4 linked regions of the Homo sapiens genome follow. The protein of the gene in region 4 purifies or fractionates together with the protein of the main gene of each other region. This does not show direct contact. Each region holds a gene or a part of one and is shown on either strand. Other genes may lie near its edges.

Region 1 (3,526 bases), on a different chromosome or scaffold from region 4:
ATCTCCTTGGGATCTTTCTAGAAATTGCATTAAATGCAGAAAATAATTTGGGTAGTAAATTTTGATCAGTAGTATGTAATTATCTTGAGCCCCATTTTTTTAAATACACTTTTTCCATCTCCTTTGGCAAGAGAACTTTGGTAAGCTGTTTACTGAATTTATTAAAATTCGTCCTTTCTAAAATATAGACCATCTATTCCTAGGCCCTTGGACTGGACAGTGCCAATGAGAAAGGCTTGTATAGGAGGGGTGAAGCCCAGCTGCTCATGAACGAGTTTGAGTCAGCCAAGGGTGACTTTGAGAAAGTGCTGGAAGTAAACCCCCAGAATAAGGCTGCAAGACTGCAGATCTCCATGTGCCAGAAAAAGGCCAAGGAGCACAACGAGCGGGACCGCAGGATATACGCCAACATGTTCAAGAAGTTTGCAGAGCAGGATGCCAAGGTGTGTGCAGAGCCTGATGACTGCAGGTGGATCAAGAGCCTGACCATGCCCCTTTGATTTTAGGGGACAGGAACAGCTAAACAACCCAAGAGGCTCAAGAGCAGGGAAAACGATTTCCAATCTAATCTGAGGCTGCTTTGGATCCAAAGGTCGAGTAGGGCAGTTCCAGTCACCAAAGGCACACGTCATGAGAGATGAGAAAACTAAATTCCCTTCAGATGTATTAGATTGGTTCAAAAGTAATTGTGGTTTTTACCATTACTTTCAATGGCAAAAACAGCAATTTTGCACCAACTCCCCCCGCCCGCCCCCCGGGCCCCTGCCCGAGTCAGAGTCTCACTCTGTCACCCAGACTGTAATGCAGTCGTGCTAACATGGCTCACTGCAGCCTTGACTTCTCTGGATCAAGTGATCCTCCCACCTCAGCCTCCTGAGTAGCTAGGACAAGCACACTACCACACTGGGCTAATTTTTTAAAATTTTTTGTAAAGATAGGGTTTCACTTTGTTGTCTAGGCTGGTCTCGAACCCCTGGCTTCAAGGGTTCCTCCTGCTTTGGTCTCCCAAAGTGCTGGGATTATAGACATGAGCCACCATGCCCAGCCCTTTTGTCATTTTTGAAAAATTGTAAACCCATCAGGATTTTTTTTTCAAGTAAGACTTACGATTTTCCCAGGAAATGGGATGTTATAGGAGCCCCATCATCACACCTGTTATCTTGAGGGTCGGCAGCCAGCCTGAAAAATGTGGCAGGAGAGGTCTGTCTGCAGAGAGGGCGGCCTCCCTACAGCATAGTTGGCATTCTGGTCCTGTCCCCAGTCTCCAGGAATGCCCAGACTTCATTATCCCACAGCTGTCCCATGTGTCAACCAAAGAAAGGTGAAGCTCCCACTCTAACTATTGGTAGCACAGCCCTGACCTACCCAGCTAGATATCCTAGAGAAAATCATTGCAATACCTCGTGTTTGGGACCTGATACACAGTCTGGAGGAGCCAGGAATTATTTCACTTCTTTATTCTCTAACCTTCTTGATTGCTTATTTCTTCCTTAGGAAGAGGCCAATAAAGCAATGGGCAAGAAGACTTCAGAAGGGGTCACTAATGAAAAAGGAACAGACAGTCAAGCAATGGAAGAAGAGAAACCTGAGGGCCACGTATGACGCCACGCCAAGGAGGGAAGAGTCCCAGTGAACTCGGCCCCTCCTCAATGGGCTTTCCCCCAACTCAGGACAGAACAGTGTTTAATGTAAAGTTTGTTATAGTCTATGTGATTCTGGAAGCAAATGGCAAAACCAGTAGCTTCCCAAAAACAGCCCCCCTGCTGCTGCCCGGAGGGTTCACTGAGGGGTGGCACGGGACCACTCCAGGTGGAACAAACAGAAATGACTGTGGTGTGGAGGGAGTGAGCCAGCAGCTTAAGTCCAGCTCATTTCAGTTTCTATCAACCTTCAAGTATCCAATTCAGGGTCCCTGGAGATCATCCTAACAATGTGGGGCTGTTAGGTTTTACCTTTGAACTTTCATAGCACTGCAGAAACCTTTAAAAAAAAAATGCTTCATGAATTTCTCCTTTCCTACAGTTGGGTAGGGTAGGGGAAGGAGGATAAGCTTTTGTTTTTTAAATGACTGAAGTGCTATAAATGTAGTCTGTTGCATTTTTAACCAACAGAACCCACAGTAGAGGGGTCTCATGTCTCCCCAGTTCCACAGCAGTGTCACAGACGTGAAAGCCAGAACCTCAGAGGCCACTTGCTTGCTGACTTAGCCTCCTCCCAAAGTCCCCCTCCTCAGCCAGCCTCCTTGTGAGAGTGGCTTTCTACCACACACAGCCTGTCCCTGGGGGAGTAATTCTGTCATTCCTAAAACACCCTTCAGCAATGATAATGAGCAGATGAGAGTTTCTGGATTAGCTTTTCCTATTTTCGATGAAGTTCTGAGATACTGAAATGTGAAAAGAGCAATCAGAATTGTGCTTTTTCTCCCCTCCTCTATTCCTTTTAGGGAATAATATTCAATACACAGTACTTCCTCCCAGCATTGCTACTGCTCAGCTTCTTCTTTCATTCTAATCCTTGCTATTAAGAATTTAAGACTTGTGCTTACAATATTTTTGACCTGGAGTGGATCTATTTACATAGTCATTTAGGATCCATGCAGCTTTTTTTGTCTTTTTAAGATTATTGGCTCATAAGCATATGTATACTGGTTTATGGAACTTTATTTACACTCCTCTATCATGCAAAAAAATTTTGACTTTTTAGTACTAAGCTTAATTTTTAAAAACAAAATCTGTAGGGTTGACAAATAAATAGTTGCTCTTCTACACTAGGGGTTTCACCTGCAGGTTTGACACGCAGTTGCTCGCTTTTCCTGCCCTGTCAAGCTTCTCTGTTCTGGCGTGAGTTGTGAAAGAGTTGAAGACAGCTTCCCATGCCGGTACACAGCCAGTAGCCTAAATCTCCAGTACTTGAGCTGACCATTGAACTAGGGCAAGTCTTAAATGTGTACATGTAGTTGAATTTCAGTCCTTACGGGTAAACAGATTGAGCATGGCTCTCTATTCCCTCAGCCTAAGAAACACTCATGGGAATGCATTTGGCAACCCAAGGAACCATTTGCTTAAACCTGGAACATCTCACCTTTTTAAATCCTAAAAAACACTGGCAGTTATATTTTAAATTAGTTTTTATTTTTATGATGGTTTTATCAAAAGACTTTTATTATTAGATTGGGACCCCCTTCAAACCTAAAAATCAAGTTATTTCCTTTTATAATACTTTTCTTCCCCATGGAACAAATGGGATCAATTTGTGAGTTTTTTCCTTTAATGATAACTAAAATCCCTCTAATTTCTCATTTATGCTTTTGTCTTTTTTATGAAATATTTCTTTTAAAAGCCCCAGTCTCACCTACGAAATATGAAGAGCAAAAGCTGATTTTGCTTACTTGCTAAACTGTTGGGAAAGCTCTGTAGAGCATGGTTCCAGTGAGGCCAAGATTGAAATTTGATACTAAAAAGGCCACCTAGCTTTTTGCAGATAACAAACAAGAAAGCTATTCCAAGACTCAGATGATGCCAGCTGT
Region 2 (3,526 bases), on a different chromosome or scaffold from region 4:
GCAGCCGGGCCCCAGTTCTCCTGCTCCCTCAGCATCGTTGTGAAGGGGAGGAGTCAGAAGTGGCCCCTGGGGGCCAAAAGGCCCTGTCCATTTGGGGTCAGACACCAGGACACTGGAGGGTTTCCGGGGTGGGGTGTGCACCACACAGTGCCACAGCAACACAGGCTCGGTGGGAACTGCCCTTTGCTGCAAACGTTCATGAAAGTCTGCCTCTCTGCATCCCGGCAGCCGGGTTTTCACGGGTCCTTGGAAGCAGTGGTGGTCCAGCACAAGCCCAGCGGTTGGGGCAGGATGAGATGCAGCCTGGGGTCTGTGTGAGAGGTCCGTTTCACTCCTGCTGGAGGCTCCTTGACACTAAGGTGTGACCAGGCCATTTCCGTTTGTGACTGTCCCATGTACACAGACAGGGCACTGTCCTGTGCTTACAAAGTAGGAGCCCACCCGGTTTCCACCTGCCTCCAGACAGTGAAAATCTGTCCCGATGGCAGAAGACAGGGTCACAGGCCCATCTCTAACCACTGTGCGATCTTGGGCAAGCCACTTAACATCTCTGAGCCTCAGTTTGTGTATGCATAAGATGCTAGTATCCTCCCAGGGTCTAAGATCTATGTGACTTTGTCACCATGAACGAGGGCTCACCCCAGGAACAGCTCAGCTGAGGTACAAGGTCTCACCTATTGTACAGAGAGGTAAGCACCTTGCCCAGTGCCACCCAGCCAGAAATAGGCCTGGACTGGCTGGGTGTGAGCATGCAGAGCCCAGGGAGCCGACGGCATCCCTGGGCCCTCACCTCGACACACTCAGAGCGCTTCTGGAGGCCCAGTTCTGCCTCCGGCTGCATGGAGCCCCTCAGCAGGGAGGGAAAATGCCAGGCAGACACTTCTGAGCTTGTAAACGGTCATTAAGGAACTAATAAACCTGATTTCCCAGAACGTTGCCCTGGGGCTCCCTGCTTCCCAGGGAAGAGGCTGGCCCTAGCCCCAGTGACTGCCAGGGTTTCAGGACACGGGGACACCAGGTTGCTTGTCCCAAGCAGGCCTGCAAAGCCACGTGCTTATGGCCCACACCTTGCTTCGGGGCAGCGTGGAGCTCTCTTGCTGAGGAATGAGGAGGAATAAGGGGCCAGAGATGGGACTCAAACCTGCCTGGGCCACCTACCTGCTGGGAGACTTTGGGCAAGTGGGTGCTGCAGAGCCTGCCTCCTCTGCTGTGAGATGGGTTGATGCCCCACCACGGAGGGAGCCAGGGAAGATGACAGCAGATATGAATGTACAGTGCCTGGCACACACCCAACGCCCAGTTGGAAGTTTCTTTTATTCCTGGCTGAGCTCTGCCACCATCGCTCACTTAGTCTCTATCTGAGCCACGAGCCCCACAGGGGACAGATCTCTATTCGACAGGTGGGGAAACTGAGGCTCAGAGAGATGAAGTCACCTGTCCAAGGTCCCACAGTTAGGGAGGTGGTGGGGCTACAACCCCAGCCAGGGTCCCGCGCTCTTAACCTCCACACTCTGCAGCCTCTTGCCACCCTGGAACTGGTGAGGGGCAGGAGAAAAAGAACGGGTGAGGACTCTGAGTGTTTGGGGTGCTGGAGTGAGTCCTGCATGCAAAGGCCTTTGATTCATGAAGAAGGGACAGCACCTAACTGCCTGGGCAGCACTGCTCAGCTTGCAAAGGACTTTTACAGACATGATCTCATTTAGTTGAGGCTAAGGGTGAGAGGCGGCTGTCATCATCCTCACGGGCTGGCAAGGTCAAAAGGGGCTTAGGCCAGGGTTCAAAGTCCTGTTCCCACTCCAAACCCCACAGCAGATCCTCAACCCTCCTCTTCCAGATCTCTTTTTTTTTTCTTTTATTTTTTGAGACGGAGTCTCGCTCTGCTGCCCAGGCTGGAGTGCAGTAGGGTGATCTCGGCTCACTGTAAGCTCTGCCTTCTGGGTTCAAGCGATTCTCCTGCCTCAGCCTCCTGAGTAGCTGGGACTACAGGTGCATGCCACCACACCTGGCTAATTTTTTTGTATTTTTAGTAGAGACGGGGTTTCACCGTATTAGCCAGGATGGTCCCGATCTCCTGACCTTGTGACTGCCTGCTTCAGCCTCCCAAAGTGCTGGGATTACAGGCGTGAGCCACCGCGCCTGGCCCCAGATCTTCTTATGACTAAATGGAGCTGACAACCTGGGGAGACCCACTGGGAGAGGGAAAAGGGTTTCTTGCCAGAGACCGGGGCAGGAAGCCATCCCTGCACCACCTGCTGGCACAGGGTTGGCGGCCACACGGGGGAGGCAGAGGAGAAAACCAAGACTTGAGGCAGCTTTACCCTGCTCCCAGCCCCAGGAACCTACGCCAGGGAAAGCACAGCTGAGGGGCACCAACTCCATGAGCTGCCCCCCACCCCACTGTCAGTGACACACACACACTGGCAGGCCAGGAAAACCCCTGGGCAGAGGTCAGCAGTTCATGCCCAGATGGAAACCCACCCTCACTTCCCTTGGCCAGCAAGGCACTGAGGTCCCCCTACCCCAGACACAGCCACTCCTACAGAATAACAATAACAACAGTGCCACTGCTCCATATGCGTGTTCCCATCTAGTCCTTGACAGCCCACGAGGCAGGGCCTCGGCCATCTCCCAAGTCTGTGCCATGGACCGGCAGCCACGCCCCTACCTGAAGCCACCCTAACACCATTATCACGATGGCTCCCCGCACTGCTCCTGCCATGGCCGGGCACTGCACTGCAGGCTGCACACCTTTACCACGGGAGTCCTCACCTCACACAACCCTCCAGGTAGATTACTGTTAGTGAGCCCACTGTGCAGCTGGGGAAACTGAGGCACAGACTAATTAAGTGAACTCATCCTACTGAGCACACACATGGACGACTGTGCCCAGCAGCCCCTGGACCTTGGCCCAGCTCCTGAAGTTTGGAATCCTCCTCCATCCTTTTCTGCTGGTCACAAGGTTCCCCTCACACTCCAAACAGTGTCTCTGGCCCACCTCCTGCACTGCCCACTTGGCTGAAACCACTTTCCTGCAGGAGCCGGGCACTGGGGCTGGAACTGCCTTCCAGTAGCTTTTGGACCACAAACAACTCCCAGCTGGGCGCCCGGATACATTTGCTGAAGGAGGGGCCGTGGACACGGTGGCGCTTTGTACTTCCCGGAAGATGTGTTTTTCCTTACACCCATCCTAGGTCTCCTGGGAGGCAAAACGACGTTCCGGGCAGGCTTGGTTTCCCTGTGAAGCCGCCCGTGCCCTGAGAGCTGTCCCTGCCTAGCCACCACCACCGCCGAGGTCAGCCTGTACTTGGGCAGGCGCAGACGTCCCCGCCACTCCTCCCCCAGCCTGGCTCAGCTGGATAGGAAACTGGGAGCCGCTTCCGACAGCCAGCGCTTCCACAGCCGGTGCAGATGCCTGAGCTCACTCTGGAAATCCCCTGGGGCAGATGGGGCAGCGCCGAGGCCTGCTCCAGAGTGCGAGGCACAGAGATCTGAGGAGAGTGTGGAGGGGGAGAGGCAGCCAGGAGGG
Region 3 (3,397 bases), on a different chromosome or scaffold from region 4:
TTGAAGAAGTGCAATATTAAACCATAACAGGTTACCATTTTTCACCTGGCAGATTAACAAAGATCAAACAGTTAGCTATTCTAGGGTTTGATGAAGTAGGTGTTCTCATACAGTGTTCTCAGTACTTTACATGTATCCTTTTACTAAATCCTGACAACAATCCTATGAGATAGTACTGTAATTTTCCATATATATGGATGAGTTAACTGAGGCACAAAGAAAGTTAAATAACTTTTCTCAAAATTAAAGTTCCAGAACTAGAATTTGAACTCTAACTCTCAGATACTCTGAAGGCAGAGCCCTCAACTGTTCTTTTTTTTTTTTTTGAGATGGAATCTTGCTCTGTCACCCAGGCTGGAGTGCAGTGGCACGATATTGGCTCACTGCAACCTCCGCCTACCGGGTTCAAGTGATTCTCCTGCCTTAGCCTCCCAAGTAGCTGAGACTACAATAGCTGGCCACCATGCTGGGCTAATTTTTTGTATTTTTAGTAGAGATGGGGTTCCATCGTGTTAACCAGGATGGTCTCGACCTCCTGACCTTGTGATCCGCCTGCCTCATCCTCCCAAAGTGCTGGGATTACAGGCATGAGCCACCGTGCCTGGCCCGCTCTCACTCTTAATAAACCACATAGTACAGGTTGAGTATCCTTTATCTGAAATGTTTGGGACCAGAAGTGTTTTGGATTTGGGATTGTTTTTTGGATTTTTGGATTTACTTACTGATTGAGCATCCCATATCTGAAAATCTGAAATTCAAAATGCTCCAGTGACTGTCATGTAGATGCTCAAAATTTTTGGCTTTTGGAGCATTTTGGATTTTGGATTTTCAGATTTGGGATGCTCAGCCTGTATTATTCCTGTCAGTACCAGCCATGAGCCATGAGGGCATTATAAAGGCAAGTCAGAGAACATTGCCATCATTTGAGTGCCTTCTACATGTTAGATTCTGGAAATTTTATTAACGCATCAGATCCTTGCAATAACCTCAGGAGGTAGGTGATAGTATTCTTACTTTATGGAAGAAGAAACAAGCTCATAGAGATAGAGTAGTTTATATAACGAATTACACAACTGTAATCCAAGCACTTTGAGAGGCCGAGACGGGCATATCACTTGAGGTCAGAAGTTCGAGACCAGCCTGGCCAACATGGTGAAACCCTGTCTCTACTAGAAATACAAAAATTAGCTGGGCATGGTGGCACATATCTGTAGTCCCAGCTACTCAGAAGTCTGAGGCACAAGAATTGCTTGAACCCAGGAAGTGGAGGTTTGAGTGAGCCAAGATCACGCCACTGCACTCTAGCCTGGGCAACAGAATGAGATTCTGTCTCAAAAAAAAAGGACAGCTAGCAAATTTTGTAGCCAGAATCCAAGAGCCCATGCTTCAAGGATTGTATATAAGAATTTGATGAGGAAAAAACCATACATACGTACATACATACATACATATAAAACTTCTAGCATTCTTTGTCTCTATGGGGGATTTTCTCATATGGGAGGATCTAGCATTCTGGGTTTTTGTGGTCTCTGCTCAGTTTGTAGATGTACCAGGCTGTTATCCTTTGCTTATAATATCCACTCTGAATTTCTATCAGCACACCCTCAGTTAGACTTAATGACTTGAACATTTTAAGGGTTCCCTTCCCTGTAGAGCAGAAATAACCTAGAAATTCAGGGATGGACTTTAAGAATGAATCACCTGAATTTGTATCCCAGTTTTTATCTATAAATATATTGGGGCTGGGCATGGCGGCTCATGGCTGTAATCTCAACACTTTGGGAGGCTGAGGTGGGAGGATTGCTTGAGCCTAGGAGTTCAAGACCAGCCTGGACAACATGGTGAGAACTTGACTCTACTAAAAATAAAAAATAAGCCAGGTATAGTGACACATGCCTGTGGTCCCAGCTACTTGGAGAAGGCTAAGGCAGGATGATCCCTTGAGCCCAGGAGGTCGAAGCTGCAGTGAGCTGTGATTGTGCCACTGCATTCCAGCCTGGACTACAGGATGAGACCCTGTCTCAAAAAAGTGTGTGTGTATGTGTGTGTGTGTGTGTGTGTGTGTGTGTGTGTGTGTGTGTGTAGGAAAGGTAGAGTCTATTAGCTTGTATCAGATTTGTAAAGGAAAGTTAACCACTGCCTTTGAGCCTAAGCAGCCATCATGCTTAATTTTCATATCAGGACTCGGAAGCCCTCCAGAGCTAAGGGTGCCCTAGTCAAATGCTTCATTGACAGTCTCTGTAGCACAGTAAGAGTCATCTTTCACAATTTTACTTATAACCAAGAACCTAATTAAATAAGTGATAACAAAAAATTATTATTTTACTTATAACCGCTTCATTTATTCATCAGAAGGCTTTACCCACCCATAATTGAGAAACCAGATGGACAGGCGTTTTATGGAAGCTCAAATACAAAATGCTAGGACGGGTGCGGTGGCTCACGCCTGTAATTCCAGCACTTTGGGAGGCTGAGGCAGGTGGATCACGAGGTCAGGAGATCAAGACCAAGACTGGCTAACTCGGTGAAACCCCGTCTCTACTAAAAATAGAAAAAATTAGCCGGGCATGGTGGTGGGCGCCTGTAGTCCCAGCTACTCGGGAGGCTGAGGCAGGAGAATGGCGTGAACCCGGGAGGCGGAGCTTGCAGTGAGCCAAGATGGCGCCACTGCAGTCCAGCCTGGGTGACAGAGCGAGACTCTGTCTCAAAAAAAAAAAAAAAATACAAAATGCTATCCTGAAAACCTACCTGAGACCTTTTTCTAAACTTGGGTGTAGTGTGAGGCAGTGATGGGTAGAGAGAAAGGGGATCAGTGACAAGCCTTGAGATTTAAATTAACAATGAATCTCTGTTTGTGAGCCTTCCTTACTTTTCTGTCTCCTCCCCCAACTCAAAAAGAACCTTAACTGTTAGAATAAGCTTGTTCAGTGCACAGTCTGTGGGCTACATGAGGCACAGGATGGTTTTGAATGCGGCCCAACACAAATTCTTAAACTTTCTGTAAAACATTATGAGACCTTTTTTGCATTTTTTTGTTTGTTTTTTAGCTCATCAGCTATTGTTAATGTTGGTGAGTGTGGTCCAAGACCATTCTTCTTCTTCCAATGTGGCCCAGGGGACCAAAAGATTGGACACCCCTGTTTTAGGAGGACAGATAACTTGACCTAAATAATAAAGGTCAGGAAAGGAAAAGCAGAAAAGCGTTTCAAGGGAATGAATTAGGAAGACATCTAACCTTGCCAGGAATAAACACACAAATTCATAAAGGAGTTGTAATAAAGGACTAAATTGGGCCAGGCGCGGTGGCTCACACCTGTAATCCCAGCACTTTGGGAGGCTGAGGCAGGTGAATCACAAGGTCAGGAGTTCGAGACCAGCCTGGCCAACATGATGAAAC
Region 4 (2,685 bases):
TCCCGAATGAGCACATTCTGGCTGCTCAGATCTCGGTGGGCAATACCTGGTTTATATTGGCCTGTGGGGGAATCCAAGGTTGAAGGAACATGGATTTTCTTCCTCCCTCTTTTTTTTTTTTTGAGTCGGCGTCTCGCTCTGTCGCCCAGGCTGGAGTGCAGTGTCGCGATCTCGGCTCACTGCAACCTCCGCCTCCCGGGTTCAAGTGATTCTCCTGCCTCAGCCTCCCGAGTAGCTGGGACTACAGGCACATGCCACCACGCCCGGCTAATATTTTGTATTTTTAATAGAGACAGGGTTTCACCATGTTAGCCAGGATGGCCTCGATCTCCTGACCTTGTGATCCGCCCACCTCGGCCTCCCAAAGTGCTGGGATTATAGGCGTGAGCCACCGTGCCCGGCTCTTCCTCCCTCTTTTGACCCAATCTTTCCCCTCCAAACTAAGGCAGAATCACAAACATAGCACTGTGGCTCCCTTGACTTCCTATGCCCAGCTCACCCACCATTCTGCCAGCGCTCCTCATGGAGAAATGCCAGGCCCTGGGCCAGGGACAGTGCCATCCGCAGGGAACTTCCCCAGTCACTGGTGTACTGGGTCAAGTAGTGGCACAGGGAGCCCTGGGGAAACGCAGAGAGAAAAGGATGGTACACAAAGCTGGAGACGGCTGATCCATCCCAGGGAGCAGAGATCAATTGACAGTCTTCTCCCTGCATCTCCCCAGCAGACAGACACACTGATGGATGCTGGCCAAGACAATAGGTAGAGGAGTAAGACTGTGCATCAATTGACATGAAAAATAGTAACTCTAGATCAAGGGTACTGGGCACTTACTGTGGTCCAGACCCAGTGGATGTGGCCTCCTGTAATCCTTGTGAAAACCCTAGAAGGTAGGTGCTCCTGTCACACCCCCATTTAACAGATGAAGAGCTTTTCCTTACAGAACTAAGGAAACTCTCTTGAAGTCAGTCGGTGAGGCAGGAGTGGAGCTTGAATCCAAGCAGTCTGACTCAGGATCACTTACTAATAACCACCACCTTATACTGACTCAGAAGACATGCGGCAAAGACAGTAACAGAGGAGGCAGGGCAAGCTAGTCAGGGGCATCCTTCATGAGTCACCTTGTCTGAGGTGTCAGGCATGTGTACACATAGACGGGCAGAGCCAGTAGATAACAGAGTAGCAGGTGGAGGGCAAGTGGGAATTGGAGGGAAGGGAGCAATAGAACCCCTCATTCAACAAGTGTCATCGAGCACCTTCGGTGGCCACGAACTGTGTTCAGGCACCAAGATGGCTCAGGGAAGGTAAGAGATAAAGAATGCAGTAAACCCCAAGATAGGAAAATTAACCGAGTGCCAAGGGGCATAAAGCAAGAATGACTAACCCTGCCTGGAGAAGTCAGAGAAATTAAACAAACAAAAAAACAGTGATTTTTGAGCTGGGCCAGGAGGTATATGGTCAAAGAAGGGACTTTCCATCATTCAAGATTTCAGAAGTACAGAAGCTGTAGGTGCTGAAAAAGTTCAGGGAAGAGCCACTGCATTTGGGCTCTGAAACAGGTGGTGGAGGTTGAACTACTTACAATAGGGCAAAGTGAGTTGTGGGGAGCTCTTCCACGTGGACAGAGACACACACAGTCCTGATGGAGGGGTAAACAGGAGGCAATAGACACGATGATGAGGAGCCAGCTCTAGAGTCACATAGATTCTGGGCAAATGACTTTCCTTTTCTGAGCCCCATGTGGATAATCATTCCTATCTCATAATGTGTTTGTGAAGGGTAAGTTTGGAAATGTGTTTAAAGCGTGTAGCATGGCCGGGCGGGGTGGCTCACGCCTGTAATTCCAGCACTTTGGGAGGCCGAGGCAGGCAGATCACTTGAGGTCAGGAATTTGAGACCAGCCTGGCCAACAGGGTGAAATCCCGTCTCTACTAAAAATACAAAAATTAGCCAGGAGTAGTGGCGGCACGCCTTAATCCCAGCTACTCAGGTGGCTGAGGCAGAATTGCTTGAAACCAGGAGGTAGAGGCTGCAGTGAGCCAAGATTGTGCCACTGCACTCTAGCCTAGTCAACAGAATGAGACTCTGTCTAAAAAATAAAATAAAATAAAATAAAATAAAAAGCGGGTAGCGTAATGCCTAGCAGGAAGCAGATGGGAAATGGTATGAAAACTTAAAAAGCCCCAAATATTTAACAGGCCCACAGGGCCTGGTGTGGCTGGCCTCTGCCTACCTTTTCCTCTTCTTGTTGCTCATTGCTCTCCCCTTCAAGTCACATCTTATTATTCTTATAGTTCATTGGCCCTCTCTCCTAGCACTTAGCACACTTGACATTTGACACTCGTGTTTACTTGATCCATTTCTGTCTCCCCTGCTAGTCTATAAAATCTGTAAAAGAGGGACTGTGTGTTTTTTGTGGCCTCTAGCATAGTGCCTGACATATAGTTCATACTTATTTGTTGAATGAATACGAATGAGTTTGGAGGGCTGTGCCTGAAGATATTTCTTTAACAATTTTTTTTTTTTTTTTTTTGGCTGGGCACGGTGTCTCACACCTGTAATCCCAGCACTTTGGGGGGCTAAGATGGGTGGATCACTTGAGGTCAGGATTTTGAAACCAGCCTGGCCAACATGGTGAAACCCCGTCTCTACTAAAAATGCAAAAATTAGCCAGGCGTGGTGGCAAG

Evidence for each region. The genes of interacting proteins can lie anywhere in the genome.
Region 1: the proteins of AMHR2 (region 4) and FKBP5 purify together in Homo sapiens (co-immunoprecipitation; 2 studies listed by BioGRID and IntAct, with this or other methods). This does not show direct contact.
Region 2: the proteins of AMHR2 (region 4) and RHBDF2 purify together in Homo sapiens (affinity purification with mass spectrometry; one large-scale study listed by BioGRID and IntAct). This does not show direct contact.
Region 3: the proteins of AMHR2 (region 4) and SGK3 purify together in Homo sapiens (affinity purification with mass spectrometry, with the first as the bait; one large-scale study listed by BioGRID). This does not show direct contact.

Annotation. Positions count from the first base shown.
Region 1 is NC_000006.12:35,573,911-35,577,436, reverse strand, and holds part of FKBP5 (peptidyl-prolyl cis-trans isomerase FKBP5), read left to right. Parts: intron 1-203; coding exon 204-443; intron 444-1,494; coding exon 1,495-1,602; 3' UTR 1,603-3,526. UniProt on the Homo sapiens protein: Immunophilin protein with PPIase and co-chaperone activities. Component of unligated steroid receptors heterocomplexes through interaction with heat-shock protein 90 (HSP90).
Region 2 is NC_000017.11:76,494,919-76,498,444, forward strand, and holds part of RHBDF2 (inactive rhomboid protein 2), read right to left. Parts: intron 1-3,526. UniProt on the Homo sapiens protein: Regulates ADAM17 protease, a sheddase of the epidermal growth factor (EGF) receptor ligands and TNF, thereby plays a role in sleep, cell survival, proliferation, migration and inflammation. Does not exhibit any protease activity on its own.
Region 3 is NC_000008.11:66,855,760-66,859,156, forward strand, and holds part of SGK3 (serine/threonine-protein kinase Sgk3), read left to right. Parts: intron 1-3,397.
Region 4 is NC_000012.12:53,426,829-53,429,513, reverse strand, and holds part of AMHR2 (anti-Muellerian hormone type-2 receptor isoform 1 precursor), read right to left. Parts: intron 1,638-2,685; coding exon of another isoform or gene 1,581-1,637; intron 619-1,580; coding exon 504-618; intron 62-503; coding exon 1-61. UniProt on the Homo sapiens protein: On ligand binding, forms a receptor complex consisting of two type II and two type I transmembrane serine/threonine kinases.